4 separate regions of the Homo sapiens genome follow, and regions 1, 2 and 3 are each linked to region 4. The links come from fine-mapping of genetic effects on gene expression. A gene starts in region 4. Each other region holds a variant in brackets. All regions are shown on one strand. Distances are between the middles of the regions.

Region 1 (8,106 bases), 82 kb before region 4:
CAATATTCCCGTAGTGGGTGGGGCTATAACCTATAATCCTAGAGGGAATGTCAATCCTGAAAACCCCAGAGCATCTGGGAGTGGCCTATCATACCAATGCTGGAAACCCAGAGTGCCTGTTTCAGCCAATGAGGGTCCCCTCACCAAATGCCAAAAACCTGGGGGCACCAAGGGAGTGGCCAACAGTGAACCCAAGACCAAGTTGGGGTCATAGAACAATGTGACTCTGGTGTCCCAGAGTTGACGCAACAGAGCACAACTAAACATCCAGCCTTAAACAATTGCTCAAACACAGTTAACAGAAAGTCAAAAGGAAACATAACGCTTCAAATGAAACGTAAATTTTTGGACTCGAAATAAAAATAAAATGATTGGTGGAACAATAATATGGAGTCAGAGAAGAAAGCACAGGGGGGAGAGGTCACAAGGATGTGCCTCAGGGCACTCATACTGTGGGGGACTTTTAACCACTTAGCCGAAGGCTTTTTATTCCCCAGCTCACTAGATGTTATGGAGTAGGGGAAGAAGGGACACTTACCCATCCATAGGAGCCAAATGGCACCAGCCAGTCTTTCATGTGGGACCCTGGTGAAGGTCCCTCCAGGACCCCCCAGCTTGGGTGGGCTCAGCTGTCACACAGGGGGCAAGCATAGGGACTGGTAACCCACTGGCCTGCCATGGTCAGAGCTCACATGAGGCAGTGACATTATGGCCATTAGTGTGTCTGCTTGGCCCTGCCGCCTGCCAGGGAAAATGATGGCTCTGAAAAGAGCCTTTGGTTAGTGTTAGCAGCTCTTTATTGTTACAGCCTCAGTGTTATAGCTCTTGCAGCCTTGATCACAGACCGCTTTGCGGTCTCTCGCTGTCTCTGCTTGGTCTTGTCAGTCTCTCACTGTCTTCCCAGTTGCTGTCTCTCATAGTCGTCACCTCTCCACTGACCGCTGATTGCCACCGTCTCTGCTGTCCCACCATCTCACCTGTCTGCTGACTGCCACTGTCTCCACTGACTTGCTGCCTCTTGCTCATTATCTTTTTCCTTTCATTGATCACCAGATGATGGGAGGGCAGGTGAGCCCCCAAATTGGGGCTTAGCCTTGGGAGGTTCTTAGCTTTGCCCAGGAAAGAAAATCCAAGGATGAGCCAGTGGTGTTAGACAGCAACTTTTATTGAAGCAGCAGTGTATACTTAAAAAATTTGGTAACAGAGTACATCTTTCTTTTCCCATTATGCTCTTCCAAGATCCTAATAAACCTGCAGAGGTACTGGTCCTTGTGGAGCAGGGCTGTCCTATAGGCTGTATGCTCAGAGCAGCAGCTCAGAGGCAGTGCTGCATTCAGATTTATACCCACTTTTAACTACATGCAAATTAAGGGGTGGACTATGCAGTAATTTCTGTATGTAAAGGGTGGTAACTTCCAGTTCATTGGGTCATTGCTGTGGAAAGGGGTGGTAACTTCTGGGTGTTGTCATGGCAATGGTAAACTGACATAGCACACTGGTGGCCATGTCATATGGAAAACCACTTCTGCCCCATCCCTGTTTTAGCTAGTCCTCAATTTGGTCCGCTGCTGAGCCCTGCCTCTGGAGTCCAGTCCCACCTCCTACCTCATTATCTTGATAGTATTTCAGACTACTCAGGTAGAGTGAATTCCATCTGCAAATCACGCATGAGCCAGCTTGTAGTTATGAAGTTTTAGGGGAAATATGTCCCCCTTTTTCACTTGGTACCAAGTTTTGAGATAGGCAATTTTCTTTGTAGTCCCCTGAGGAAGGATTTGGGGGGCAGATGGATTTCTAGGGGCAAGGTGGGGTGCGGTGACTCATGTGTATAATCCCAGCACTTTGGGAGGCCAAGACAGGCGGGTCACTTGAGGTCAGGAGTTTGAGACCAGCCTGGCCAACATGGTGAAAGTTAGTCTCTACTAAAGTAAATACAAAAATTAGCTGGGTGTAGTGGCGGCGCCTGTAATCCCAGCTACTGAGGTGGCTGAAGCATGAGAATTGCTTGAACCCAGGAGGCGGAGGTTGCAGTGAGCCGAGATTGCACCACTGCCCTCCAGCCTGGGTGACCGAATGAGACTCCATCTCAAAGAAAAAGAAAAAAAAGACTAAAGGGACATAACTTGATGCATGCCAGTTTTATGCAGGAAAAATTTTCTGTTAGACTCTCCATCTTGGGTGGTCACTGAGTTTTATCTCCTTTTCTCAGTACTTCATGAACCTGTGAAAATGAACCTCCAAGTTTGTGTGGCTTGGCCAATGCCATTAAGCCAAAAGTGCCTTCTATCCTTTGCCTAGTTTTTGGCCTCTGATGATTTCCCTTTTTAAAAAATCACTTTATTGACATACAGAAAGTTGTACAGCAGGTTCTCAAATGATGTTTCACTCACTGTTGTTACTTTATAACATTGATATGAAAAAATATTTTATTTTTATCATTTTTTAAACTTTTTATTTTTATAGAGACCGGGTCTCTGTCACCCAGACTGCAGTGTGGCGGTGTGATCATAGCTCACTTACAGCCTCAAACTCCTGGGCTCAAACGGTCCTCCCACCTCAGCCTCCTGAGTAGCTGGGACTACAGGTGTGTACCACCTTGCCTGGCTAATTAGTCCAGATAATTAATTTTAATTAAATTAATTTTTTAAATTTTATTTTTTATTTTTGTAGAGAGGGGGGTCTCCCCGTCTTGCCTAGGCTGGTCTTGAACCCCTGGGCTCAAGTGATCCTTCCACCTCAGCCTCGTAAAGTATGGGGATTACAGGCGTGAGCCGTTGCACCTGGCCAGGGGAAAAAAAGGTTGATTCAGGCCAGGACCACTGTCTATATGGAGTTTGCATGCTCTCCTCATGTACGGTAAACTCTCGTACCCATCATTTCACATCATTTCTCTGAAAGTTGCAATTTCCAAGAACCTATTGACAATACTGAGGACTTACAATACATATTTAGTGTATACAGCTTGAACTTGGAGGTAAGTATAGAACCATGAAACCAGCGCTATAGTCAATGCCGTAAACATATCCATCATCTCCAAAAGTTTCCTCCTGCCCAATTTATTTAGTGATAAGAACACTTAATATAAGATCTACCATCTTATGGTTTATTAGTATCTTAGAAGAGCATAATGGAAAAAAAATCTACCCTGTTAGCAAATTTTTAAATATACATTTTTCAGTATAATTTAAAAAAAATTTTATAATAATACAATATTATTAACTATAGGCTCTAAGCACAATGTTGTGCAGTAGATGTCTAGGACCTACTCCTCTTGTATAACCAAAACTTTGCACCCTTTGATGAATACCTCCCCCTTTCTGTCTCTCCATAGCTTCTGGTAATGGCCATTCTGCTCTGCTTCTATGAGTTCGACCTTTTTTTTTTTTTTTTCCTTTGAGACAGTGTCTCACTCTGTCACCCAGGCTGGAGTGCAGTGGCATGGTCTCGGCTCACTGCAACTTCCACCTCCCAGGTTCATGCAATTCTCCTGCCTCAGCCTCCCCAGTAGCTGAGATTACAGACATGTGCCACCACCCCTAGCTAATTTTTGCATTTTTAGTAGAGATAGAGTTTCACCATGTTGGCCAGGCTGGTCTTGAACTCCTGACCTCAAATGTTCCGCCTGCCTTGGCCTCCCACACTGCTGGGATTACAGGCATGAGCCACCACACCTGTCCTTACGTTTTATTGTTTTTGTTTTGTGTTATTTTTGAGGGGAAGGTATGTTCTTGAAGACTCCTTTCTTTGTGAGAGCTGCAACACCTCACATGACCTATGTAATATATAGTTGATTGCTGCAGATAATCTTCTGAACTATCTGCCATAATGCTGGAAGTGGAAGTCCTCCAGTGTGTCATCTAACTGGTAATGCTGCCTAATAAAGCTATTGATATTTGAATATATTTTTCAGGTAATAAGCATCTTACAGTACTCTTATTAGTTCTCATTGTTCTTCAGTTGCTTCTCAGGATTTTGTAGTTAGGCCGATGATGATTCTTTTCTTTCTTTCTAATATTTATGGTTCTTATTAATTATTTTTGTTTTATGCATTGTCTATAGTAACTTTGAATAGTAAAGGTGATAATGAGCATTCTTGTCTTGGTTCTGACTTTTATAAAGTGAAGGACTATGAATCCGACATGCTGGCATTCATCTTATGCCCATGGCAAACAAACATAGTTAATCCTTCTTAGTACCTTTTCCTGCTAAGCTATGGCCCTGTTTCAGAAGCTCCCCAGTAACATTCCCATAAGTGACTATAGCTGATTTGATTTGGTACAACAGATAAGATTTATTTCCCAGTCCTCTCTCTGATGTTTCTTCTGGATATAGTTTGATATTGGCTATTCATTTCAAATATTCTTTATCATGTTTATATTCCTGGTTTACTAAAAGTCCTTTTTAAGGAGAATCACAAGTAGATATTTAGTTTTATAAAATACCTTTCCAATATCTGCCAGGGTGATCAAATGGCTTTTATATCCTTTGGTTTATCATATGTTAATTGCACTAAGAAATTTTCTAGTTTAATCACTGTGGTAGTTCTGGAATAAATCCTACTAGTCTCTTTTTTTTTTTTTTTTTTT[G/TG]AGGGTCTCTCTCTGTTTCCCAGACTGGAATGCAGTAGCACAATCATGGCTCACTGCAGCTTTGACCTCCTGGGCTCAAGCAATCCTCCCACCTCAGCCTCCTGAGTAGCTGGGACTGCAGGAATGTACCACCACATCTGGCTAATTTTTTATTTTTAGTAGAGACAAGGTCTCACTGTGTTGCCCAGGCTGATCTCAAATTCCTGGGCTCAAGTGATCCTCCTGCCTTGGCCTCCCAAAATGCTGGGATTACGGGCATGAGCTACCACACTTGGCTCTACTAGTCTTAATGTATATTATTCTTTTACAATATTACTAGACTTGTGTAGTTCATACTATGTGCCAGACACTTGTGCTTGATGCTGAGGATATAATCATGAACAAGATAGACAGACATGGTTTCTGCCCTTACTGAGCTGTCAGTCAATTCAGGGGTGATAAAGAGCAGAACATTTGCCACCACTCCCCTCATCTGAAGCTTTGGCAGAAATCACTCAAAACATGCTGTCTTGCAGAGTCTTGGAAGATCTCAGAAAGGGGACTGGGATCCTTTATTGGCATCTGCTATGAATTGGAGGAAAGATGACAGTGATAGTAAGCATCCTGCTTTTTTGCTGTTGCTAGTTTGATGTTTTATTTGGTGGCATTTTTTATCTGTAGAACTTGTGTGAGGTTTGTTAGGTATTGAATTTGTTGTCTTGAATTAAGTTTTTGCTAATTTTGTAAATCAAGTGGCGTGTGGGTCTTTTGGTAGGGGCATCTACTTGACCACTTTTTCCATTCTTTCTTTTTCTTTTTGAGACAGGGTTTCCGTCACCCAGGCTGGAGTGCAGTGATGCAATCATGGCTCACTGCAGCCTCAGCTTCCTGGGCCGAGGTGATTTTCTCACCTCAGCATCCTGAGTAGCTAGGACTACACGCCACCATGCCTGGCTGATTTTTTAAAAATTTTTTGTAGAGATGAAGTCTTACTATGTTGCCCAGGCTGGTCTAGAACTCCTGGGCTCAAGCAATCCTGAACCTTGGCCTCCGAAAATGCTGGGATTACAGATGTGAGTCACTGCACCTGGCCCAATTCTTTCTATTGTTATTTTATTCAGATGTTCCATCATTTTGAGTTGATTTTGATTTATATTTTCCAAGACAATATTCATTCTTATTGACATTTTCTAGTTTATTTATATAGAGTTTCACTAGTATTCTTTTGTAGTTAAAACACAAATTCCTGGCTGGGCGCGGTGGCTCATGCCTGTAATCCCAGCACTTTGGGAGGCCGAAGCAGGTGGATCACGAAGTCAAGAGATCAAGACCATCCTGGCCAACATAGTGAAACCCTGTCTCTACTAAAAATACAAAAATTAGCTGGGCGTGGTGGCGCATACCTGTAATTCTAGCTACTTGGGAGGCTGAGGCAGGAGAATTGCTTGAACCCCGGAGGCGGAGGTTGCAGTGAGCCGAGATTGCGCCACTGCACTCCAGCCTGGCGACAGAGCGAGACTCCATCTCAAAAACAAAAACAAAACAAAAAAACCCCCCACAAATTCCTATGTGCCTGTTTTTAGCCACTTCCTCAATCTGTTAGGGGTGTTGTATAGTCTTTCTCTTGGCTAACTTTGCCAGCAGTTTGCTTGTTTTGTTGTTGTTTTAAACAACTCTTATAACAGTTCAATTGTTTTTCTGTTTTCTGATTTATTGGTTTCTATCAGTTTCATTCTCCTATATTTGTTAGCTTTATGACGTTCTTCTTTTTCTAGCCTTTTGAATTGACTGCTTAGTTATTAGCTAGTTAATTTAGTTAGCTGGCTAGTTGCTTTTAGACTCATTTGCCTGGCTAGTCTGTCTGCAGCCTGTCCTGCTGAAGCCATCATGGTCTGCACACATGCCCTCCTCCCTCCCCAGCTGCCTGGTTGAGGTGGTGGCCTCTGCATCTGCAGTGAGGCCAGGCCGAGAGAGATGAGTGAGGTCAGGATGGTGATGCTCACCTGTGTCTGTTTCTCTTTCCTTCTGGGACGCATGGGAGACTATACTTCTGAGTTGCAAAATGTGAACAACTGGTAAGTCAGGTAAAAGTGACATTTGTCTTGCAACTTTTCTATAGGTTTGATATCGAAACTCTGGGTAATTCTGCAGCACACTCTGCTTAAGCAATCACTGTTGTAGAGATGATGGGGGATGTGGGGTGTAGAAATTTCCTGATGAACACATGCATACCAGAGTTATCAGGGAGTAGAAACTAATAGTGACAAGTCCATTTGGAAAAGGGAGCGAGAGAGACAGATAGAGACAGACGGAGTTGAGCAGATGTGCAGAGAGAAGCACCTGGCCCCAGGGTGAGAGTGAAAATAGCTGCCTCAGCTCCTGTTCACTTTCACGTTCTCAATTCCCGTTTCACGAGGCCTAGCTATATGGCAGTCTGTACAGTATACAGTTCCTTCCTTGGATACTCAGGAAATCTATCCATTCTTAAGATATCCTCTCTTCCTTCCACTCTTGGCTTTCTTCTTTTACTTGGACCAGCCAAGGTAGGCAATTGTTTCTTAGAGCAGCTCCCACTAGAACATTTGTTAGTAATGATATTGATAGTTTATTTATTATTGTGCTTTATTGTACCGTTTAAGTTAATCCTTACACTATTAGCATTTTCATTTTATAGAGGAGGGAAAAAGAGATACAGAGAGGTTTGCTAACTTGCCCAAGGTTGTACAGCTCATAAGTGATGGAGCCAGGATCAAGCCTATATATATATATATATTTTTTTTTTTTTTTTTTTTAATTTTTTGAGACAGAATCTCTCTCTGTCGCCCAGGCTGGAGTGCAGTGGTGCGATCTCAGCTCACTACAAGCTCCACCTCCCTGGTTCACGCCATTCTCCTGCCTCAGCCTCCCCAGTAACTGGGACTACAGGCGCCTGCCACCACGCCCAGCTAATTTTTTATATTTTTAGTAGAGACGGAGTTTCACCGTGTTAGCCAGGACGGTCTTGATCTGACCTTGTGATCCACCTGCCTCGGCTTCCCAAAGTGCTGGGATTACAGGTGTGAGCCACCACACCCAGCAGGATCAAGTCTATATTCTTAATCATGAGGCCAGTATGTGTTTGAGGCTAAAAGTTGCCTCTGAATTCATCTTTGATTGAATTCTCATTTATTTATAAATAATTGTGTATAACTGGAATTTTTTCTTTGCCCCAAGGGTTAAGGTGTTTTTGTTTTTTTTTTAATTTTAATTTTTATTTCTTTAAGAGACAGGGTCTCACTGTGTTGCCTGGGCTGGAGTGCAGTGGCTATTCACAGATGTGATCATAGCGCCGCCCTACAGCTTCAAATTTCTGGGCTCAAGCCATCCTCCCGCCTCAGCTTCCCAAGCAGCTGGGATTACAGGAATGCACCACCACGCCCAGCTCAAGGGAGTATTTTTAAATGTCTAAGTGTTAGGTTGGTTGTTTGTTTAGCCTATTTTAAAATTTTAAAATTGTGTTTGTGTGAGGAAATGTGGTTTATTGTGCTTCTTGGAATTTTTG
Region 2 (8,106 bases), 35 kb before region 4:
TAAACATTAGCAAAGGCTGCAAAGTGACAGACTGACTGTCACATCTAGTATGTCAATAGGTTTTATGTGCTTTGCATAGTAAAAATGCCACCATAAACATTTTGGGGATTTCTAGAAAAAAATCTAGATTTCCAGCTTGTTTTGCTTGAAAAAAAACCAAAAGAACTGGCTACACTAGGCCCTCATTCCTACATGACTAACAATCAGCTGGAGCTGAGAAGTGGTTCCCTTCATTAGATGAGCACGTGACCTTCAGTTTGCCGTGTTCCCAGCACTCCTCATGGCAGCTTCACTGGTTCATTTTACTTATTTGCATTATTTGTCTGGCTCCTATAAGGCATCTGAGTTTGCCAACTCTTGCCCCAGAATAACAGTTATGCATTTTCTTTATATCTCTACCCTCCTTGATTTGCCTCATATTTCCCCAATGATGTTCAATGCAATATTACTTGCAACAGAGAAAAATTGAGAATATTCTAAATATCCAATGGAAAAATGGCTAGTGAGCTACCCATGTAACGGAATATAATAGAACCATTAATATTGGGTATACAAGGTATATTCAATGGTATCGAAAAAGGCTTTTAAGCTAATTTATTTATTTTTTGTTTTCTTTTTTAAACTTTTTACAATTTTTTTTTAAAAATTTTTTTAAAGATGGGGGTCTCATTATGTTGGTCAGGTCTGTCTTGAATTCCTGGCCTCAAGAGAGCCTCCCACTTTGGTCTCCCCAACTGCTGGGATTAAAGGTGTGAGACACCATGCCCGGCCCTTTTAAGCTAATTTAAAAAGTAAAATATCAGTGCTTTGAGAGACTGAGGAGAGAAGACTGCTTGAGCCTAGAAGTTCAAGACCAGCCTGGGCAATAAAGCGAGACACTGTCAACACAAAAATTTAAAAATTAGTTGGATGTGGTGGCACATGCCTATGGTCCTAGCTACTTGGGAGGCTAAGGTAGGAGGCTGACTTGAACCCAGGACTTTTGGGCTCCAGTGAGCTATGATAGCGTCACTGCACTCCAGCCTGGGTGACAGAGCGAAACTCCATCTCAAAAAAAAAAAAAAGGTATCAAATCGCATAAAGAGAATTCTGCTTCCCACATTATGGTAATCAAGACATTACAGGGCCCCTTTCACTGCAAAATATGAAAAATATGAGATCCTGTATAATATATACTTTTTTTTTTTTAAAGGAATAGGGTCTCACTCTGTCACCCAGGCTGGAGTGCAGTGGCCCAATCATAGCCCGCTGCAACCTTGAGTTGGGCTCAAGCAATTCTCCTGCCTCAGCCCCCACAAGTAGGTGGGACTACAAGCATGTGCCACCATGCCTGGCTAATGTTTAAATTTTTTGTAGAGATGGCATCTTGCTATGTTGCCCAGGCTGATCTTGAACTTCCGGCCTCAAGGAATCCTCCTGCCTCAGCCTTCCAAAGCGCTGGGATTATAGGCATGAGCCACAGTGCCTGGGCAATATATACTTTTAAAAGCATTTCAGGTCTCTCAGTATATAGGAGACATCTCTGTGACTACTCTACCCAATTCCCCAAAAAGGGAAAAATTCATGAGCTATGCAGTAAGCAAGGGGGAGAACCAGGGTTCCTTGTCAGCCAATTCCCAGAGCATCACTGCAGCCAAGATGACCATACTTGAGCCACTGGGAAGGTGAGGGAGCTAAACCTGAGAGTTCTGCATTAAGCAGAAACAGGGAAGCCTGAAGGAAGTTCATCATGATCCATGGTAGGTGGTGTTCCACAGCTTTTGGTAGAAGCAGATATGAATCTTCTCTGGGGGAAAATATTTCCCAATCTAAGTCAACAAAATTCTCAAAATTAAAGATCAAGAAAAATTAGTTTATAATTAATGATCACAAAGATGCCATGAGCAAATAACAGAGAAAACAATAAATAATGTATTTAGATTGCAAGAACTTCAGATACCAAAAATGTCAGTTACAGAATATAAATCAGCTATGTGTGAAATGTTTTAAAATAAAAGATAAATCTCAAAGGTAAGCGAGTGGCAATGAATTATTAGAAATAACCAGGCAGATCTGAAAAAGAACGAAATATGTTCAGAAGTTAGAAACATAATTATTAAAATAAAAACTCAGCCAGGTGCAGTGACTTACACCTGTAATCCCAGCACTTTGGGAGGCTGAGGCAGGAGGATTGCTTGAGGCCAGGAATTTGGTAAGAGCCTGGGCACCATAGCAAGACTCTGTCACTAGATACATACACATGTACATACATATGCAAGCAAGCAAGCAAGCAAGCAGAATGTGGTGGTGCACACCTGTAGTCCCAGCTACTTAGAAGGCTGAAGTTAGAGGACTGCTTGAGCCTGGGAGATTGAGGCTAAAGTGAGCCATGAAAGCACTACTGCACTCCAGCCTGGGTGACACAGTGAGACCTTGTCTCAAAAAAGAAAAAAAAAACAACGAAAGGACAAATTTAACAGCAGAAAAGACAAAGTTGAAGTGAGAAATTAGTGAACTGGAAGATCGATCTGAAGAAATCACATAGAAACAGCACAAAAAAACAAAGGAACAGAAAAGTGAATGAGAAGTTAAGAGATAAGATAGAATGAAAATGTTTAATATACTTATAATCAGAATCTTTGGTAGAGAATCAAGGAGAGGTAATATTTGAAGAGATAATGACAGATAATATTTCAGAAGTTATTAGAAAACAAGAATCCATGGATTCAGGAAGTAAAACTATCTCAGGATAAAGAATATCAGTAACAAGTATCTAAACTGTACATCAGCAAAAATTTTTTGTGTGGCTTTTATTTTGTTTTGAGACAGGGTCTCTCTCTTTTGCCCAGGCTGCAGTGGCACCATCCCAGCTCACTGCAACCTTGAACTCCTGGGCTCAAGTGATCTTCCTGCCTTAGCTTCCTAAAGCTCTGGAATTACAGGCATGAGCCACTGTACCCCACACCAAGTAAAATCTGAATGCAATACATTTAATAGTTAACAAGATGAGGTAATATCTGTTTGAGTGTTGTGTAATCCTAGGCCAGTTATCTTGCCTTTCCCTGCCCCCATTTCCTGTAGAATGGTGATGAAAATACCACCAACATTAAGTGAATTAATACTATCAAGCACTTAAATTGTGCCTGACATACAGTAAATACCCAGTAAGTGTGATACTATTATCAAGTGATAAGATGTTGGTTAATATCCAAAACCCCCACAAAGGAGATTACACAATTCTGACCAAAATAGGACGGTAACCTTGGAGAAACATGAAAAGACTGGATATGGATACCTTTCCCCACTCCTCAATCCCAGCATCTTCCAGAACTCAGTAGTGGTCTGGGCAGCTTTCATAAGCAATAGAGAGATCCAGGGTGCTCAAAATAAAGCAGGCATGAATATAAACATTGGTTACTGAGTCTTCCTGTGCCTGGACCAGGCTACTTTATGGGGAGTTGAAGGCTTAGGGGAAACATATGCCCCCTACTATAGATCTGAACAGTGGTCTATTCAAAACAG[T/C]ACATGAAAGTGCTCTGTAAACTGACCATTTTATAGAAATATAAAGCACTGTTAAAATGCTAGGAACTCACTCTGCATGGCCACCACCCAAGCAGTTGGGACTACAGGCACGTGCCATCACGCCCAGCTAATTTTTGTATTTCTTTTCTTTTTTTTGGTAGATAGGGTTTCATGTTGCCCAGGCTGGTCTCAAACTCCTGAGCTCAAGCAATTCGCCCACCTAGGCCTCACAAAATGCTGGGGTTACAGGCAGAAGCCACCACACCTGGCCTAAAAAATATGTTTAAAGGTGGCTGAGGCTTGCTGGAGTGCAGTGGTGCGATCTCGGCTCACTGCAACCTCCACCTCCTGGGTTCAAGCAATTCTCCTGCCTCAACCTCCCGAGTAGCTGCGACTGCAGGAGTGTGCCTCCACGCCAGGCTAATTTTTGTATTTTTAGTAGAGACGGGGTTTTGCCGTGTAGGCCAGCTGATCTCGAACTCCTGGCCTCAGGTGATCCGCCTGCCTCGGCCTCCCACAGTGCTGGGATTACAGGCATGAGCCACCGTGCTCGACCAAAAATTCTTTTTAAAGGAAAAAAAAAAATAGGGATGTTGGTTAAAGTTTGTAGAAGAAGTAATTAGACACCCAGTCCCCACCAACAACCCTACACTGTCAGGAGACCACTGGTCTCCTGCTCCTCAGGATTACTGGAGATTTATTTCTGGAGAACTTTGAGTGGAACTGCATTCGACTCTGGAAAACAAGGCATGGAAGAAAGCAGGATGAGAGGCCAATCTGAAAACTGAGGGGTTAGGTGAAAATCTCCAAAGAATTGCTAGACTTCTTCCTTCTATTTCAGGATAATACCAACAGCCAGACTTATTTATCCCACCCTACCCCTGGTAGATTATTTCTCTGCAGAAACTGAACTACCTCAGAGAAAAGAATGTCAAATTCTCTGGGGGTTTCCCCACACAAAAAAAGGCCAGCCTGTTCCACCTGCCCACCAGACAAGTTTGCCAGTTGATATATCTTTCCACTCTCACAGAACCTCCAGTGTTTTTAAATGGCTCATTTTTATATCAGTAGCCAAGGGATTACCAGAGTTTTTTTTTTTTTTTGAGATGGAGTCTCGCTCTGTCCCCCAGGCTGGAGTGCAGTGGTGCGATCTTGGCTTACTGCAAGCTCCACCTCCCGGGTTCACGCCATTCTCCTGCCTCAGCCTCCCGAGTAGCTGGGACTACAGGTGCCCGCCACCACGCCCGGCTAATTTTTTGTATTTTTAGTAGAGACGGGGTTTCACCGTGTTACCCAGGATGGTCTCGATCTCCTGACCTTGTGATCCACCCGTCTCGGCCTCCCAAAGTGCTGGGATTACAGGCGTGAGCCACTGCACCCGGCCTGGGATCACCAGACTTTTGAGGGCAGCCTCCAACAGAAAACAAAGAGTACAACAAAAACATAAAATAGGAGTCTGGGAGAAACACATAATGCAGAACAAAACAAGACAAAACCCAACACATGAGGTCATTTTATCACTTTATTGATGATGCTAATTTTGAACTAGTCCTTCGTTAAGATAGTGTCTGTCAGGTTTCTCCATTGTAAAGTTATCATTTTCTCCTCTAATTAATAAGCAATCTATGGAGAGATTACTTTTAGATTAGATAAATAACCTGTTCCCATCAAACTTTCATCCAATCATTTTAGCATCCATTGATGAGTTTCATCTGAATCAGTTATTTACTATGATGGTTGAAAAATGACAGGTTTGTTTTGTTTTGTGTTTTTGAGGCAGAGTCACACCCTGTTGCCCAGGCTGGAGTGCAGTGGCCCTATCTTGGCTCACTGCAACCTCCGTCTCCCACAGCCTCCTGAGGTGCTGGGATTACAGGCATGTGCCCCATGCCTAGCTAATTTTTTGTATTTTTAGCAGAGACAGGTTTCACCATGTTGGCCAAGCTGGTCTCAAACTCCTGGCCTCAAGTGATCCACCCACCTCAGCCTCCCAAAGTGCTGGGATTACAGGCATGAGCCACTGCGCCTGGCCAAAAAATGACAATTTTCTATTATTCCTTCTACATTGATTAGTTGGCATTCTAACATAATAAAGATTTCCCTTTTCCTTCCTTTCTTAATTTATTGATTTAGGATAAATATGGACCCCTGGATTTTAAAAAGTCAGTGGGTCATAATCCATTACTGATTTTGATGTTCAGACTGCCCCAGATTTGGCACTATTTGGCTTAAATTTTTATTTTTTTTTTTTAATTTTTTGAGATGGAGTCTCCCTCTGTTGCCCAGGCTGGAATGCAGTGGCCCTATCTTGGCTCACTGCAACCTCCACTTCCTGGACTCAAGCCATCCTTCCACCTCAGCCTCCTGAGTAGCTGGGACTACAGGCATGCACCACCATGCCTGGCTAATTTTTGTATTTTTTGTAGAGACAAGGTTTCACCATGTTGCCCAGGCTGGTCTCAAACTCCTGGGCTCAAGGATCCAGCCACCTCAGCCTCCCAAAGTGACAGGATTATAGGCATGAGCCACCACGCCCAGCCACTATTTGGCTTTTTTTTTCATTGTGAAGACCTTTATTGCTGTGTATGAATTTTTAAAAGCTAACTACTTATTTTGGAATAATTTACAGTTATAAAAAGTTGCAAAGATAGTTCAGAGTTCCTGTACCTCTTTTAACCAGTTTCCCTAATGTTACCATCTTACGTAATCAAGGTACATTTGTTAAAACAAAGCAATTAACATTGAGTACATTACAATTAACTGAACTGGCAGACTTTATTTGAATGTGGCTGCTTTTTTCACTTATGTCCTGTTATTTAGCTTTATAAAAAACATTATAATTTTATAAAACATATAAGCTAATTAAAAACAAAGCCACCCTCACAAAAGATATGCAGATGTATAATGCAGGCTGCAGATAAACAGTTTAGATGTTGTTAATAAGTATAGCTTAGCAGAGAAAAGTTTTGCATTTCCCACAATCAAGACAATGAGTAGTTTTGGGAACTGTCCAAGAAGGTAATTTTTAGCAAAAGTAAGCAGTACTAATCAATAGACAGGACTATATGATTTTAGTATACCTCTATGCCTGGTCTTCCCAATAATCACTCTGCTGACCTTTCACCTCAGTACACCAGGGACAGAGGTGGATTGAAATCATACAAATCTTTGGAAATCAACAGAAGGTACTTTTGTTTGTGCTGACTTACTGGGTATCCTCTCCAACAGCGACAACCTCAGTTAAGGTAATTCCTTTTGGCTAAGTTTTCACCTCAGACTGCATGATTGATTCCAGTAGCAAAGGTCAGAAATGCTCAAACCATAACAAATCAAAATAAATTATTACATACTGTACTCTATTCTCTGATCTAGAATTATCCTGAGGCTATCAATTAATATCATCTTGTGAGCCAATTAATCAAGCAAGCAATCAAGCCACAAGCATCTACTGTATTCTTCCTGTGTATAAGGAGCTATGCTGGATGTTCAGGGGTAATAGCCCAATTTGAGGGGCTCATAATTTTGTTAAAATAATTGCCAATATGCCTCTGGAGGCCAGAACAGCAAAAAGAAAGTTTCAGGGTGTAAGGGTTAGAGCAATGCTTTTAATTTTTCAGCCCCAATACATAAAACAGCTACCCTGGTTGAAGCAGAGGAGGCCTAATGCCCCATGCACTCCAATTCCCTCTCCTTACTGTGGGGGGCCCCAGAGGCACCTCCAGGGAACCCTAGGCAAAGGCAGAACTGACCATAGTTTGTTGGGAGTTAGAGATATGGGGAGTGAAATAATTAACTGACAGAAACATCTCTCTTTTTTCATGCCTCCCAAATCAAATGTTTGTAAACAGATGTTGATTAACTTCACCAATAGCAAACCTAACTTCCCAGAACAGAAATAAACTTTGTACACGAATTTGGAAAGTCAGCTACCCTCCACCCTTGCCATGAGATTAGATGGAGGCTCTGAGTTTCCTATAGGACAAGTACTTCTCTGTGAAATGTGTGAGAGAGGCTCAAAGAATTTGGAGATTTCAGAACTGGTGGTAACAGTGATTCCTGTGGGTGTCTAGGACTGAACTGTAAAGAGAGAATAAACAAGTTCTTAGATGCTGAGAGCACCTGGCTATGGCATCAGGAGTCTGATTCCATAAATGGAATAGCAGCCAATGCCCAGGAGGTCATCTGTCTTTCCTCCAAGTAGAGTGTAGCTGCTGCTAGCTGAGGAGGCCACTGTTTCTAACTCGTATCATGTTATTTTGGACTCCAAGTGAGGCCAGACGGCATGCTGGGAGTGTGTTGAAAGGGCCTAGCCTGAAGGGCTGTCCCAGACACACCAGTTGCTGCCTTATTAGGCTTCCTTAATATAGAGTCCTCTTTCGAAGCACAGAACTTGGTTTGCTTTTGGCTTCTCACATATGTTGTAGAAAAGTTCAGCTAAACGTCCACCCCCAAAAGTCAAAGACAAACATTCCAGAAGAGGCTTGGCTCTGAAGTAGAATGGGCTTAGCAGCCTAAAAGGTAAAAGACCCCAGGCGCCCAAGGCTCCAATTCAGTAAATGGAGACTGCAGCATTGGGAAAGTATACCCAGGAAAAGAATAAGCTAG
Region 3 (8,106 bases), 60 kb before region 4:
GGGCAGGGACCTGGCTGGCAGGAATTGAATGGGGTAGAAGTTCGTGGAATGGGACACTGCTCCCCTCTTTTGTAAAACGCTTCCTATTGCTTTTATGGTGCTGGACTGTCTTGTACCTCTCTGCTGTTCAGTCCCTCTTCATTTTCTTGACTCCAAAGGTGAGTGTATCTTAAGGCTCAACTCTTGCATCTCACCTTACACTTTATTTCTTGAGAAGTTTTGAGTTCAGACTTCTACGGGATGACTCCCAAACCCACAGCTTTAGCCTGGACCTTCCTCTTCATCTCCAGATCATTCTGCTTTATAGTTCTGCTTTCACTTAAAATGTGCTATAACCGCTTATCCATCACCTTTCTCCTTTTTTCCGATGACTTCCATTTCTATCAATGGCAGAACCATTTTCTTTGTTTCTAAGTCTTGGAGTCACAGTCACACACATTTTCAGTGATGAAAATGTTTCAGATGTTACTGACTTCAAGCTTTTGCTCATTATCCCATCTCCAATCATGCCAGCACATTTCATTCCTGAGCATATCGAACCATAGTAAGATATTTCTTTACTTGCAGCCTACCTGTTATCTGTATCTACCCCCACTCCCACTCTTTTCACGATCCTGGCATTGGAACCTCAGAGTCCACATTTGCTCCCCCTGAACGGAGGTATGTTCCCCAAGGCTGGGCCTCTCCTGTTCTTTCAGGCAGTCTTCAGGTCAATGTCCTTCAAAACGTGGTGCTCAGAACTAAACACAAAACTCCAGGACACTGGAGTGGGACAGTGGATGGACTGCACTTCCAACAAAACACTGTAGATCTCCGAATAAACGTAAGATGGCGCTATAAGCACGCACCCGGCCTAAAGCCCTGGTGAAAGCTCACCAGCAGTGGGGCTCAGTAGCTCTGCGAGGCGGGAATTAGTTCTCTTACTTGACATATTAGGAAATGTGAAATGTAGACAGATTAAAGCACTTGCTCAAGGTCAAACAACTAGGAAGTGGCAGAGCTAGAATTCTGCCTAACCCAGAGTCTGATTTCAGAGCCACTGTTCTTTTTACCACATTGTACTACATGTGAAATTGTATCAGGCCAGGTTTTCCTATCCCTCATCTTATTTACATCAAAGAGTCAGAGGGGATGGGGACCACAATCCCATTAGGGAGGTGCTTCTGAATCACTCCCAGGGGACACTTTCAAGCTCCACCCTCCTGCTATACCCAGTCACTGCTTACACAGACTCTGCATTCTCCCTGGCCCACTGTGCTCCAGCCACACTTCCCCGTCCTTAAACACACCAGATGCATGAACATCTCCGGGCCTTTTGCACCTGCTTTTCTTTCTGTCTGAATCTTCTCACCATTCAGGCATCAGCTCAAATATCACCCCCTCAATAAGACCTTCTCTGACTACGTCAGCCCCTCTGGCAAGTTGCTCTCTATCCCATTACCCTGTTTCATTTTCTTTTCAGCATTGTTGAACTTTCCAGCAATTAAAAGTTGTCCTTTTAATGTGTTTATTGTCCATTACTGCTCCTAAGAGCTCCAGAAAAGTGGGGATTTTATATTGTTCACTGCTGGATCCATAATGCCTGGAACAGAGGCTGGCACACAGTATGGAGTGAAAAACCATCTGTTAAATGAGGGAATCTCCACGGTCACTCTTGATTCAAGCCAGTCTCACTACAACCAGAAGCTTCTTACATACACCAACTAGCTTCTGAGATACAAATTTTATCTCCCAGAATAAAGTCTAATCTTCTCAGTGAGCTAGTTGCCCACACCTGCTACGAGCTAGGCTGCTCTCCCTTCAGACTTCCACACCTGCCCCCACTGACCCTACTCTTCCCAGTCCATCCCTGTCATGAAGCCCACTGCTTTTCCCATCAGGAATGTGTCCTTCCTTTCCGCCTATTTAAGTATCAGTTTTCAAGGCTGAGCTGACTCTGGCTATCGGATTAGGTCATCCCAACCACAGCATTATTATACCCCCTATACAAAGTATGTCTGAATTAGACTGCTTATTCCTACCCTTTTAAAACTCCTCTCTGCTAAGTTCCCAGGATACAGACTGAGGCAGAGGAATAAGATCAGGTAAGAAGGGGGCCCCTGTGGGGAATGGGTCTTAGTTCTACCCTCAGGGAATACACAGAATAAGTTTTCTCACTTTTCTATGTGACATTCATTAAGAAAACCAGAGACAGAGACCGTATTCACCCGAGTCAGTTTTTCTCTAGGTTAAATAGCCCCAGTCCCCCAGTTCCTCAGTTCCTTCTTAAGATGTGGTACCCAGAACTCAATGGAATACCACTGAGCACTCACTGGTTCGGAGGAGTGAGAGACTATCCACTCTTTCTTTCTGGAGTCTATGAATGAATCCAGTCATCTTAACTTTTTGGAAGCTCTACCAACTGCTGACTCAATCTGAGTTTGCAATCAAATATCCCAAATCAACTCAAGTGCAGGTTACATATCAAACTTCACATTGGTCTCTGCTTTATTAGTTTTGTTCTTTCAAGATTCAGTAAGATCCCTTTAAATCTTGATTCTGCTGCTCAGTATCTCAAAGAGCCGTCTCAGCTGCCTTTTTTATTTTTATTTTTTAATTTACTTTTTTCTGAGACAGAGTCTCACTTTGTCACCCATGCTGGAGTGCAGTGGCGTGATCTCAGCTTACTGCAACTTCCGCCTTCCAGGTTCAAGCGATTATTGTGCCTCAGCCTCCCGGGTAGATGGGACTACAGGCGTGCGCCACCATGCCTAGCTAATTTTTGTATTTTTAGTAGAGATGGGGTTTCTCCATGTTGGCCAGGCTGGTCTCGAACTCCTGGCCTCAAATGATTTCCCCACCTCAGCCTCCCAAAGTGCTGGGATTACAGGCATGAGCCACCACACCTGGCCTACTTTAATTTTTTTTAGAGACAGGATCTCACTTTTTGCCCAGGCTGGGATGCAGTGGTGCAATCATAGCTCACTGTGCCTCAAACTCCTGGGCTCAGGCGATCCTCCTGCCTCAGCCTCCCGAGTAGCTAGGACTACAGGCATGTGCCATCACTCCCAGCTGTTTTTAAATTTTTTTTTCTGTAGACACAGGGTCTCACTATATTGCCCAGGCTGGTCTCAAACCCCTGGCTTCAAGTGATCCTCCTGCCTCAGCCTCCCAAAGTGCTGGGATTATAGGTGTGAGCCACCATGCCCAGCCGACCTTCTCAGCTTCCTATACTGTCATTCCTAGATTGGATCAACCTGTCCCTTCTTTTGTCATTCAAAGCTTGATGAATTGTCATTCATTTTTGATTTAGAAAAAAGCTGTACAGAATCAAGAGAAGACTGGAGACTTATGGAACAGAGCAGCATGTTGATATGTCTTAATCTGATAGAGAAAACACATCTCTGACCAGGATATTTCTTGCCCTCAGAATGCCAGTCATAGTATCCCACGAGATGCACCCAGCAGACAGACACTGCAGTCTAAGGGAGTGGGTTCAAAGGACCCAGTCAATCCTTGCTGTTTCTGATCCTGCCCCTTCCCTAGAGATCTC[C/T]CTCCCATGCCCACCCCAAGGACAGCTCTTCAGTGTATGTTAGGAACATGAAGTCTTCTGATGGACTGTGATCTCCCTGACAGCACAGATATTATTTATGGTTTTAAAACATTTTCTTTTGTGAAGCCAACAGACCCAACCTAAGGCTACAGCACAGCTGTGAGCCTCTGCTATCCCTGCTTTACCTCCCTTTCCTTCTAAACCCTCTGAGATCTGGCTTCCACTCTCACTACTCCTGAATGTTGCCTTCAGGATTCTTCATTATCTTAGGTGATTTCTCTTTAGAACTCTTTTGGTTCAAACTTTTTTTAAACTTTCTCCTCCTTTGGTTCCTGTGACTTCACTCTCTCCTGGTTTTTCTTTTTTTTTGAGACGGACTCTCACTTTGTCACCCAGACTGGAGTGCAGTGGCATAATCTTGGCTCACTGCAACCTCTGCCTCCCAGGTTCAAGCGATTCTCCTGCCTCAGCCTCCCATGTAGCTGGAACTACAGGCACCCGCCACCACACCTAATTTTTGTATTTTTAGTAGAGATGGGGTTTCACCATGTTGGTCAGGCTGGTGAACTCCTGACCTCAGGTGACCCGCGCACCTCGGCCTCCCGAAGTGCTAGGATTACAGGCATGAGCCACCATGCCCGGCCTCTCCTGGTTTTTCTTCTATTGTCCTAATTCTTCTGTCTCTTTTGAGGGTGCTGCTCATCCCTTAAGTCACAGTATCCCCTTCTTCCCTTTATAACTCAACACATTCTCCCTGGATCCTCTCTCAGCCACACACATAGCTTCAGCTACCACTTTTGTTTTTTATTTTTGAGACAGAGTCTCACTCTGTTTCCCAAGCTGGAGTGCAGTGGCATGATCTAGGCTCACTGCAACCTCTGTCTCCTGGGTTCAAGCGATTCTCCTGCCTCGGCCTTCCATGTCGCTGGGATTACAGGCGTGCACCACCACACCCGGCTAATTTTTGTATTTTTAGTAGAGATGGGGTTTCACCATGTTGGCCAGGCTGGTCTTGAACTCCCGAACTCAGGTGATCTGCCTGCCTCAGTCTCCTAAAGTGCTGGGACTATAGGTATGAGTCACCACGCCCAGCAAGTGCCAGCTACCACTTTTATTCCAATGACTTTCCAATCTACACAGTGCTTTCTCCTGACTTCAGGAAGACACCCCTTCCAGTCCATCTTCTACCCAAACAACCAGTGATCCAATTACTTTTTTTTTTTTTTTGAGGTGGAGTTTCGCTCTTGTTGCCCAGGCTGGAGTGCAGTGGCGTGATCTCGGCTCACTGCAATCTCCATCCCAGATTCAAGTGATTCTCCTGCCTCAGCCTCCAGAGTAGCTGGGATTACAGGCATGCGCCACCATGCCTAGCTAATTTTTGTATTATTAGTAGAGATGGGGTTTTACCATGTTGGCCAGGCTGGTCTTGAAAACCTGACCTGAGGTGATCCGCCCGCCTTGGCCTCCCAAAGTGCTGGGATTACAGGTGTAAGCCACTGTGCCCAGCCCAATTACTTTTTTTTTAAACAAGGCCTGAAGGAACAACCAACCAGTGATCTTTCTAAATGCAAATCAAAACATATAATTAAGCAGACAGAAAAACCAAACCAAACAAAAACAAACAAATGCCAAAAGCCATTTCTCTAAAATTTTTCAGTGGTTCCACCTGTGTTCCACTATGGCTTCACCAAATTATATGCAGTTCCTAGAAAGGGTCAAGCTATTCTGTGCCTTTGTGGTTTTGTACAGACAATCCTGTGAGCCTAGAACATTCTTCTTACAAGTCGTCACAAAGCCCAATCCTAATCATCTTTCTAGATTGGGCTTAAATGTAACTGCATTAGCAGTTCCTCCCTGACGTTTCAGTCTGATTTACATACCCCTTTCACTGGCCAGTACGGAACACTGCCATCTCTGCATTTTAATGATCAACTACGTTTTCTGTTTCTGTCCTTAGCTGGAATCCTTGAAAACAGAGTCATCCCTCTCATCTCTCTGTCACTAGCACCACCTTAACACACTGGTATAAAATATTTATTTAAAATGTAACAAAATAAATAGGGAAAGAGCTGGCCTAGGGAGGCCACTGCACTCCAGCCTGGGCGAAAGAGCAAGACTCCGTCTCAAAAAGAAAAAAAAAAAAACTTCACTGACGCCCAGTGTGTGTGTGTTGTTGTTGTTAGACATATCCCTTGGTTGCCCCTTAGGCACTGCAAACTCCTAAAGGTCTGAACCTGAACTTTTCTTCCAGGAAATCTCCTGTGATTACAGCCCCTATCCATGGCCTCATCTTTCCCATCATCCAGGTTCAGAATCAGTCTTCTGAATCCTTCATTTCCCAATATGTCAGCCTCTAAGTCCTGCTGATTTTATCTCCTCAGTGTATTTATTTATTTTTTTTTTTTGAGACAGAATCTCACTCTGTCTGCCCAGGCTGGAGTGCAGTGGTATGATCTCAGCTCAGTGCAACCTCCACCTCCTGGGTTCAAGCAATTCTCCTGCCTCAGCCCCCTGAGTAGCTGGGATTACAGGTGGGTGCTACCACTCCTGGCTAGTTTATTTTTTATTTTAGTAGAGCTGGGGTTTCATTATGTTGGCCAGGCTGGTCTCAAACTCCTGACCTCAAGTGATTCGCCTGGCTTGGCCTCCCAAAGGGCTGGGATCACAGGTGTGAGTCACTGCACCCAGTCTGCTCAGTGTATTTTTGAGTCCTCTGTCTTTCTCCAGTGAGCCTATTCCACTGTAGCTGTGGGTCCTGCCCTGGCCTAGAAGGATAACAGATCTAGGATGTGGAACCTCTAGTGGTATGGATGGGGTGGTCTGGCAGGGACCTGTCAGGGAGGTGGCCATGCATATCCTGCTGGTGAATAGCCACATATTTGCTAACCCTTAGGCTCCTTACCGTCAGCTCTAGCTCTTGCATCCCTCTGGGTATGGCTGTTGGCTGGGCTCCCTGGGAGAGCAGGCCCTGGATCCATCAGCTGAGCCAGGGGGCCTTGCCCAGTAGCTCTGAGGCCAGCAGGAGGCATCTCACTGGAGTGGGGTCCCTGACAGACCTGGGTGGACCAGGGTGGACTTGGGTCTGGGCCAAGTAGGTCCATGCCTGGCCCCAAAGGCATGGGTGGCAGGCTATGGCTACAGCAAGTGCCCTCATCCAGTGGGGCCCCCCGATCTTGCTGGGCTTCTTGGATGGGTGAGAACTCCTGGGAGGAGTCCCCAACACTCACACGAAGTGGGGGCGAGCCAGAGCCTCCAGTTTTCTTCCGGCCCTTGGCCAGCTCGGCAAAGGAGGTGACCCTCCTGGGTGGGGAGCCAGGCCCGGCCATGGCTGCAGGGCCCTCACTCAAGCGCACTGGGCAACTCAACATACGTTCCAGCGAGCCCAGGCGGACAGGAGGGCTGCGCTGCAGGCTGCGATCATAGCTGCGGGAGCGCTGACGTCCAGTGCTGAGGTTGGGGGGTGAAGTATTCGTGTATACTTGTCCCTCAAGCACAGTGGGGCCCACAGCAGCTGCTGCTTGGGTGGAGGAACTCACTGCTTCTTGTTCCTCTGGCTGGACTTCTGGCTTCTGGAATAGGTAATACTCAGAGGGCTGGCTGGGGCCTGGGTCTGGGCCAGGGCCTGGTGGGGGACTTATCTTGGTGTGTTCCTCAGAGCAGCTAGTGATGGAAGAGCCAGCAGGGCTTGGGGATGATTGGGAAGATAGGTCACAGGTGACAAGTTTATAGTAATTTTGTGTGGCCACAACAAGACGGGCCTGGCTTTGGAAGCAGGCTGTGAGGTCAGCCACTGCTGGGCACGGCTCACAGTGTGGGCGGTAGGAGTTGCAGTTGGCATCAAGCTCAGGAGAAGAGGCATGAGGGCAACCATAGCCCCCTTCCCTTCCTCCACTTTCAGGGTGATGGGACTCATAAGACATCTTAGACTCAAATGGGGAGGGCTGCAGATCCAGATAGAAGGCGCCAGGGTCTGAGTGGCTGCAGAAGGAAGAGTCGCTGCAGGACTGTGGGGCAGAGTTGAGATTGGCACGGGGGGTGCCATGCATCTTGTTGTAGAGGGTGCTGAAGGTGACCAGCACACCATCTGAACTGTTGCAGGAGGAGTCGCTCACATAGCCCATGGACTGGTCAGCTGCCTCGGACTGACTGGATGTGCTACTGCAGCGGCAGTGCTGGTCCCCTGAGCCGGAGCATCCAGGGTTCCTTGGGGATTCATCTGAACTGAGCTTCCATTCCTGGTCAAAGGAAAAGCCAGAGGTATCGCTGGCTCCACCCCCACTGCCACTCCCACCAGGTCCCCCACACTCATCCAGCTCCATAGTCTCTGCTTCCAGCTCTGGCCGGCAGCAGTGGCTGGTGCCGCACTGCTGAGTATCCAAGGTCATCACTGGCTCCTGTTCCTGCCCTTCCACCACTCCAGCCCGACTGCGTGTTGTCCCCCATGGCCTGCCCACTCTGGGGCCAGATGGTGGCAGCTGGAAAGAGGATAGATGAAAGTTGGGCTGGCCAGTGCCATGCAGGTGGAAGGACTGCTGGGTGGCACTGTCACCAATGCTGTCATCATACAGGTCACC
Region 4 (8,106 bases):
TCATTAGAGAAATATGAATCAAAATCATGAGATATCACTTCACACTGCTTAGGATGGTTATATTACTATTATTATTTTGAGATGGAGTTTTGCTCTGTCACTCAAGCTGGAGTGCAGGGGCATGAGCTCAGCTCACTGCAACCTCAGCCTCCCCGGTTCAAGCCATTCTCCTGCCTCAGCCTCCTGCCTCAGGGATTATAGGTGTGCGCCACCATGCCTGGCTAATTTTTGTATTTTCAGTAGAGATGGAGTTTTACCATGTTGGCCAGGCTGGTCTTGAACTCCTGACCTTAGGTGATCCGCCCGCCTCGGCCTCCCAAAGTGCTGGGATTACAGGCGTGAGCCACCATGCCCAGCCTAGGATGGTTGTTATTTAAAAAAAAAAAAAGAAAACAAGTGTTGCCAAGGATGTGGAAAAATTGGAGCCCTTATGCATTGCTGATGAGAATGTAAAATGCTATAGCCACTGTGGAAAACAGTGGTTCCTCAAATAAATAAATAAATAAATAAACATAAACATAAAATTACCATACAATCCAGCAACACCACTTCTGGGTATATACCCACAAGAACTAAAAGCAGGGACTCAAACATATCTGTACACTCATGTTCACATCAGCATTTTTCATAATAGCCAAAAGATAGATGCAACCAAAGTATCCATCAAAAGATGAATAAACAGAATATAGTGTATACATACAATGGAATATTATTCAGCCTTTAAAAGGAGTGAAATTCTGGCCAGGTGCAGTGGCTCACACCTGTAATCCCAGCACTTTGGGAGGCTGAGGCTAGTGGATCACTTGAGGTCAGAAGTTCGAGACCAGCCTGGCCAACGTGGTGAAACCCCCTCTCTACTAACAATACAAAAATTAGCCGGGCGTGGTGGCGTGCACCTGTAATTCCAGCTACTCAGGAGGCTGAGGCATGTGAATCACCTGAACTGGGAGGCAAAAGTTGCAGTGAGCCAAGATCGTGCCACTGCACTCTAGCCTGGTTGATGGAGGGAGACTCTGTTTCAAAAAATAAATAAATAAAAATAAAAGGAGGGAAGTTCTGATACAGGCTATAAAGTGGATGAACTTTAGACATTATGCTAACCAACTGCAGCACTATTTACAATAGCAAAGCCACGGAATCAACCTAAATACCCATCAATGACAGACCAGATAAAGAAAATGTGGTATATATACACCATGGAATACTATGCAGCCATAAAAAAGAATGAGATCATGTCTTTTGCAGAAACATAGATGGAGCTGGAGGCTATTATCCTTAGCAAACTAACAGAAACAGAAAACCAAATACTGCATGTTCTCACTTATAAGTGAGAGCTAAATGATGGGAATGTATAAACACAAAGAAACAAACAGCAGACACCAGGGTCTTCTTGAGGGTAGAAGGAGGGAGAGGAGCAGAAAAGATAACTATTGGGTACCAGGTTTAATACCTGGGTGATGAAATAATCTGTACAACAAACCCCTGTGAAATGAGTTTATCTATATAACAAACCCTCATATGTACCCCTGAACCTAAAATAAAAGTTAAAAAAAAACCCAAAAAACAAAAAAAGGCATTATGCTAACCGAAATAAACCAGTCACAAAGAGACAAATAGTGCATGATTCCACTTATATGAGGTACCCCCAGTAGTCAAATTCAAAGATAGAAAGTAGAATGGTGGTTGCCTGGGGCGGAGTAGGGAGAAATGGGGAGTTAGCATCTTACTGGTACAGAGTTTCAGTCTGGGAAGATGAAAAAAAGTTCTGGAGATTGTTATCAGTAATGGTTGTACAATAATGTGAATATATTTAATGCCACTTAAGAATTATTACAATGGTAAATTCTATGTTATATATATATATATTACCACCATAAAGAGTAAATATGGTACAGCACAGGTTCTGCTGAGTTATTTTGTTGTTGTTAGGATTCCCTTCTACCCCATCACCTAGCTCTATCAGAGCAATGTTGACATCTGGCTACTCAAAATGATGCTCTCGTTTCGTATGACGGACTCATTTGACAAAAATTATATTAAATGCCAATGTCTGAATGGGTGTTTTTTTTTTTTCCTGGGTAACTTCAACACTGATCAATCAAGACCATTTCTAGATAGCCTGCCCTTACCCTAACATGAAGTGAACCATCTCTTCAGTCAAGTGACTTTTAGCAGGGTGCATAGTCATTGTGTATGAGTAACAGGAAGAAAAGGGTGAGTTATTATCCTAAATTTGCAGATAAGCCCAGAGAGAAAAATAGAACACATAAGCCCTCCCATGAACTTGCCAGATTTAGCAAGTAAAAATACAGGACTCCCTGTTGTTTATTTGAAATTCAAATTTAACTGGGCACTCTGCGTTTTATCTGGCAACACTGAAGTATTGGAGGTGAGGAGAAAAATAACCCAGGGTGTTCTGGGGTAACTGAGGTCTTAACAGGAAGCCTAGACAGGAAAAAGTAGAAAAGGCCATTAAAAAGATACTGTTAAAAAAAAATTGTATTGCTTAATCCATCCAGATCAGGAGCCCCTCCCCACACTGGGTTTCTATGATCCAAGGCTTTATTTTGAGACAGAGCATTGCTCTGTCACCCAGGCTGGAGTGCAGTGGCATGATCTCAGCTCACTGCAACATCTGCCTCCCAGGTTCAAGGGGTTCTCCTGCCTCAGCCTCCTGAGTTGCTGGGACTTCAGCCTCCTGAGTTGCTGGGACTACATGTGCACACCACCATGCCCGGTAATTTTTGTATTTTTAGTAGAGATGGGGTTTCACCATGTTGGCCAGGCTGATCTTGAACTTCTGACCTCTAGTGATCCGCCCACCTGGGCCTCCCAAAGTGCCGGGATTACAGGCTGAGCCACTGTGCCTGGCCTGATCCAAGACTTTATAAAGACATGTAAGAGGGTGGGAGACAGAAAGCGGAAAAGGATACATCAAAACTAGCAATGGATGAATGAGAACATGTCCAGCCTCCAGTTAAGGCAACTGTGGCTTCAAAAAGGAATCTTAAATACCAGCACAGAAATCAGAGGGATCCTAACCTGGCTCAAAACAGAAGAGAAACAGTGGCTGGCCATACAGCAGGACGGGCATAACTAACAGAATACCAGGTATACTGTTTGGATCTGCTCTTCCTTCCATTAAGCCATCCACCACTGCTTAATATCTAAGGAGCCGGCTAAGAAAATCCAGTCACTACTTTTATTTGCTAATACTTTGAGCCCCAGTTACAATAATGCCACTACTAATTAGGTAACTACTTTCTACCTTATCAACTCCTACAGCTTTCCAGCCATTGTTTCATCCCTCAGCGATACCACCTGCTTCCGCGTGGAACCCAAACCCCCAGGAAACTAAATCTGCTCAGGTCACCCACCTAGGAATAAATAAAAACAGGTTTCAGGCCCTTTGTCCTTTGTAAATTCCGCCTTTTTTTTTTTTTTAAGGCCTGTGTTCTTTATCACGGACACTGTTCACATAGTGGTAATCCTTGCCTGACTCAGATCTACTTGTTCCTGCGTTTCATTCCTCCGCTGCTCAATTACTTGTTCAAAACGCAAAGGACAACTGGTAGTGAAGACCCTCCACCAGCAACACTACCATGTGCCAGGCACCGTGCTGGGGACCGGGGATACAAAGATGAGTAGTGTACCGTCCTTGCCCCCAGGACAGTTCCCCGTGTCCGCAGGGCCGGCCTGGAGGGCCACAGCCAACTGTGGGCAACAGGATCACCGTGCCCTTCGCGGCAAGTGAGTGCAGTAGTAGGGGACGGTTACTGCCAAGCCAAAGGTTTTCTCCAGGTAAAACTGGATGACAGAGAGACAGAGACTGAAGCAACGCCGGCGCCGGGCGGATAATAAAGGGAGGCAGGGGCTAAAAGGGTGGAGGGAGCAGAGGACCCGGCCGGGAACTGGCAGTAGGGAGGCCCCCGCTGCAGTCGCCGGCCTGGGTGCCGGGCGGCCACGCTTCCCCAAAGCCGTCACAGGGACTTGGGGTACCAAGGTGACTACTGGGCGCGAGTCGTTTTGTGGGGGGAGGGTGTCCCCAAGGGGGCAGTTTGAGGAGACGGTTGGGGATGCATCTGGGGTGGCGCCCAAAGGGACGGTGGGTGCTGGGTGTTTGAAGGTCCGGTGGACGCAGAGCTGAAGGGTCAGGAGAAGGCCAAGGGTCAGAAGGGCTGGGGACGAGGTCTGCCCAGGGGGTCGGGGCGGACGCAGAGGGCGGGTGCAGCCGAGGGGGAAGGGCTGAAGGGAAGGGCAGGCGCTGAAGGCACATAGGTGGGAAGACAGGCCCTCCCCTAAGGGAGACCTTGGAACGCGGGGCAGTGGGTCTGTGGGACCCTGCCCGCCTCCGGAGAGGCGTTCCTACCTCGTTTCTCGCCTCAGCCTCGTCCTTCCGCGCCGGCGGCGGCGGCGGCGGCGGCGTGTCTCGCCCTCCAGGGGTCGCGTTGCAGGCTAGAGGCGCCGGCGGCCCCTCCCTCCGGGCGGGTTGGAAAGGCCGGCCCCTGTCGGCGTGGCGCGATGGTCCGATCTGGGTTGCCCTCAGGCCGCCCCTCCGGGCGGCGCGTTGGTTCGGTCCGCCCGGCCTAAGGTGCTCGCCCCCTCCCCGGCTCCCGCAGCGATGGGCGCAGCCGAGTCACGCGCAGAGCTTTCCCGCTAAGGGAGCGGAGAGGCTTCCGCCGTGGCCCAATCTTCTGCGGCCCGCGCCCGCCCCCGCGGGGTGGTGCCTGGCGACGCGCGGCTCCCGGGTGCTGGAACCCAGGGAAACCTTCCGCGGGCCTCCAGGGCCGGTGGGTGTGAGTCCCAGCTTCGCCTGAGGCGGCGGTTCTCAACGCTGGCTTCCCAGTAGAACCTAGTGTGGAAACTAACCAAACAACAGAAGGAGGGCTGACCTCACACTGGACCGACTCAGAACCACTGGGGTGGAGTGGGGTGGGGTGAGGTGGGGTTGGCCTCCAGTGCATAGCCAGGGTTCGGAACCCCTGATGAAACGTAGAACCCATGCGCCCCCTGCCCTTCAGGGCCGGATGTGTGGGGGACATGGAAGATGCCTGTGTGTGACTCCTGCTGTTTACAGCCAGAGGGGGATGGGGCAGGCAGTCCTGCAAATGTTATGGGAAACCCACTGTATTAGTCCGTTCTGACACTGCTATGAAGAAATACTATGAAGGAAAGAGGTCTGACTCACAGTTCCGCATTGTTGGCGAGGCCTCAGGAAGCTTATAATCATGGCAAAAGGCAAAGAAGTAGCCATCCTTTTCGCAGGGTGGCAGGACAGAGTGAGTGCAGGCAAGGGAAATGCCAGACGCTTATAAAATCATCAGATCTTGTGGGACTCACTCACTGTCACGAGAAGGGCGCAGGGGAAACCAGCCCCATCATCCAATTACCTCCACCTGTTCCCGCCCTTGACACAGGGGGATTATGGGAATTACAATTCAAGATGAGATTTTGGGTGGGGACACAGCCAAACTGTTACAGGTAGTTAGGCATGAGCGGGGCAGGAGAGGGTTCTCCCCTGCTACCCACTAGGGATGTTGGGTGATGGTTCTGAGGCAGGAGAATAGGGACTGGAGGCAGGGAACCTAAGACTGGTTCATGCCAACTTCCTGGAACTAAATTGAAAGGAAAACCCTAACTTTCCACACCTAAGTAACAAACCCCCCACCCAACTTTTCTGCCCAGCAGATGGGAAATTGGCTATCTGCAACCAATTAGACTGACTGCAGCCGAGTCTAACTTTGCATAGAAGTATAACTTTGTAACTTCACCCTAGCCTCTGATTGGTTGCTTCTTGCAACCAATCAGATGTTTGCACAGGTGTGCGACCTTTGTAACTTCACTTCAGCCTCTGCTTGGCTGCTTTCTGCAACCAATCAGACTGATTGCAGGCTACGAATTCATTTACATGAGGTGAGCATGAAGTGGCGGGTAACTTCTAGGGGGTATTTGGACCCAAGAAGATTCTGTTTCCTGGCCCTTGAGCCGCTGCTCCGGCTGCTCCCACACTGTGGAGTGTGCTTTCGTTTTCAATACATCCCTGCTTTCCTTCTTTTGTTCCTTCATTCTTTCTTTGCTTTGCTGGGCGTTTTGTCCAATTCTTTGTTCAAAACGCCAAGAACCTGGACAACTTGCAGTCAGACCCTCTACCAGTGACAGTTCCATAATTACCTCATTGCTTCTTTAAAAAGGATAATTCGGCTGGGCCAGGGAGAGGCCATTTCCTGATGGTCCACACATGTTAACATCAAAATGCTAATTGAATGCAGGCCTCAGGGAGAAGCAACTTTCTGGGCATGCGTGTTAAGAGACAAAAATGGTGACGTATGATCTCCTGGGGGCACCCTCCACCGGAAAACGGGAAGGAAAGCACTGCGCATTCGGGAAGCCCACTCTAAGGGAAGAATCATGGGAAAGAGGCCAGCCTGTAAAAGTCCTAGGATCTTGGTTAGGCACTTGACCTTCTCTCTTTAACCTTCACGTGCCCGCTTGGGTTTCTTCCAAGCGCACCTTCCTTTCTTTCCTGTTCTAAGGCCTTTTTAAATAAACTTCCATTCCTACTCTGGAACTTGCCTTGGTCTCTTTTTCTGCTTTCTGCCCCACAGTCGAATTCTTTCTTCTGATGAAGCAAGGACTAAAGTTGCTACAGACCCATAAGGATAGGCTGCAGGTAACTTGGGGTAACTCAGACCTCTTCCACCACTAACAAAACCATATCACCCATTGAGAAGACTCTTAGGCTAGACGCGGTGGCTCACGCCTGTAATCCCAGCACTTTGGGAGGCTGAGGCGGGCGGATCACCTGAGGTCAGGAGTTTGAGACCACTAGCATGGTAAAACCCCGTCTCTACTCAAAATACAAAAATCAGCCGGGTGTGGTGGCGCATGCCTGTAATCCCAGCTACTCGGGAGGCTGAGGAAGGAGAATCACTTGAACCTGGGAGGCGGAGGTTGCAGTGAGCTGAGATTGCGCCATTGCACTCCAGCCTGGGCAACAGAGCAAGACTCTGTCTCAAAAAAAAAAATAGAAGACTCTGTTCTAGGTTCCATACTCACTGAAAGAGTTAGAGACTGGGGTCACAGTCAAGGAAGCAGATAAATGTCAGGATATGTAGCTTGTCTTCAGGCTTCACAGAAGTGGTGTGAGCTGAATTTTGAAGAATGAGTGGGAGGTAAAGAGAGAATTGGCATGTGCAAAAGAACTGAGGGGCAAAATGACCAATGTGATTGAGAAGTGTGGGAGGCAACGGAGACAGCTGAGGAGAGCTGGTCAGGGTTTGGTGATGAAACGCCTATGACTACTAAGGAGTTGGGAGAGATACTGAAGGGCTTTATTGCAGAGGCAGGAATGACAAGATCAAATATGAATGTTAGAAATAAAGTTCTAAGGGCTTAAATAAGGGTGACATGGAGAGAGCTAGCATTGCCAGTGGGGAACCAATGAGGAATTGCATGTTTGCACAGTGTGATCCCCCAGTTAAATAGTCTGGGTTGGGGAATTAAGCCAAACCAGGCCAATTAGAATTACTTCTCTAAGAATTTGGAATTGGGAGACAAAGAGCTACATCTCTGCTCAGACTTAAATTGGACTTAAGGGTAATTTGGGAGCTATGCAGTAGTCATCTTCTACTTGCCCATTTGGCCTGAGCAGCATTGAAAACCAGTTTGCTGAGAAAGAAGATCAATCAGTTGCACACAGAGAAGCAAGTCTAGACACAAAAAGACTGCTCCCTAGGTTCTTGGGACCTTCCAGCAGCTGGTTCCACTTCTTTCTGAGGCCCAGCAGGATTCCTTCCCCAGGATCATGATGCATCCTTCTATCCATTCATAGGAATCTCATTTTTGGCTTCAGCGAGTGTGGGTTACTTCCTGTTGTTTGTGTTAAAGAATAACTTTCAAAAAGGTAAAATAATGAGCCTTATGCAAGTATTTTTATTTTTTATTTTTTGAGACAGGTTCTCTGTTACCCAGGCTGGAGTGCAGTGGTGCGATCATGGCTCACTGCAGCCTCGACTTCCGGGCTTCAGCGATCCTCCCACCTCAGCCTCCAGAGTAGCTGGGACTAAAGATATTTTTTGCATTTTTGGTAGAGACAGGGTTTTGCCA

Alleles and levels. Positions count from the first base shown, and alleles are read on the strand shown. Sizes are in standard deviations (SD) of each study's normalised expression. Not every link is listed here.
For the expression in monocytes of the gene that starts at base 4,431 in region 4, allele TG in region 1 goes with a lower level than allele G (moderate effect, 0.48 SD a copy in Fairfax 2014).

Evidence for each region.
Region 1: its variant is fine-mapped to the expression of RUSC2 in monocytes (Fairfax 2014, PIP 0.95).
Region 2: its variant is fine-mapped to the expression of RUSC2 in monocytes (TOPMed, PIP 0.94).
Region 3: its variant is fine-mapped to the expression of RUSC2 in whole blood (TOPMed, PIP above 0.99). The same link has a PIP of 0.9 or more in blood mononuclear cells.

What each region holds. Positions count from the first base shown.
Region 1 is chr9:35,568,237-35,576,342 of GRCh38, reverse strand. No RefSeq gene overlaps it. Among named protein-coding and RNA genes, the nearest start is that of CIMIP2B, 8.4 kb to the right of the region's middle. RefSeq lists an enhancer at 6,711-6,870. The variant G/TG (reference allele first, on the strand shown) is at 4,587.
Region 2 is chr9:35,521,469-35,529,574 of GRCh38, reverse strand. The region is part of intron 1 of RUSC2 (RUN and SH3 domain containing 2); the gene reads right to left. Among named protein-coding and RNA genes, the nearest start is that of RUSC2, 35 kb to the right of the region's middle. The variant T/C (reference allele first, on the strand shown) is at 3,502.
Region 3 is chr9:35,546,864-35,554,969 of GRCh38, reverse strand. It overlaps RUSC2 (RUN and SH3 domain containing 2), which reads right to left. Exons shown (of 12, transcript NM_014806.5): 2 at 6,435-8,106. Among named protein-coding and RNA genes, the nearest start is that of CIMIP2B, 13 kb to the left of the region's middle. The variant C/T (reference allele first, on the strand shown) is at 3,533.
Region 4 is chr9:35,486,436-35,494,541 of GRCh38, reverse strand. RUSC2 (RUN and SH3 domain containing 2) reads right to left here and starts at 4,431. Exons shown (of 12, transcript NM_014806.5): 1 at 4,370-4,431. LOC105376026 (a long non-coding RNA gene) reads left to right here and starts at 2,915. Exons shown (of 2, transcript XR_929580.4): 1 at 2,915-3,111; 2 at 3,286-3,423. RefSeq lists a silencer at 4,463-4,762.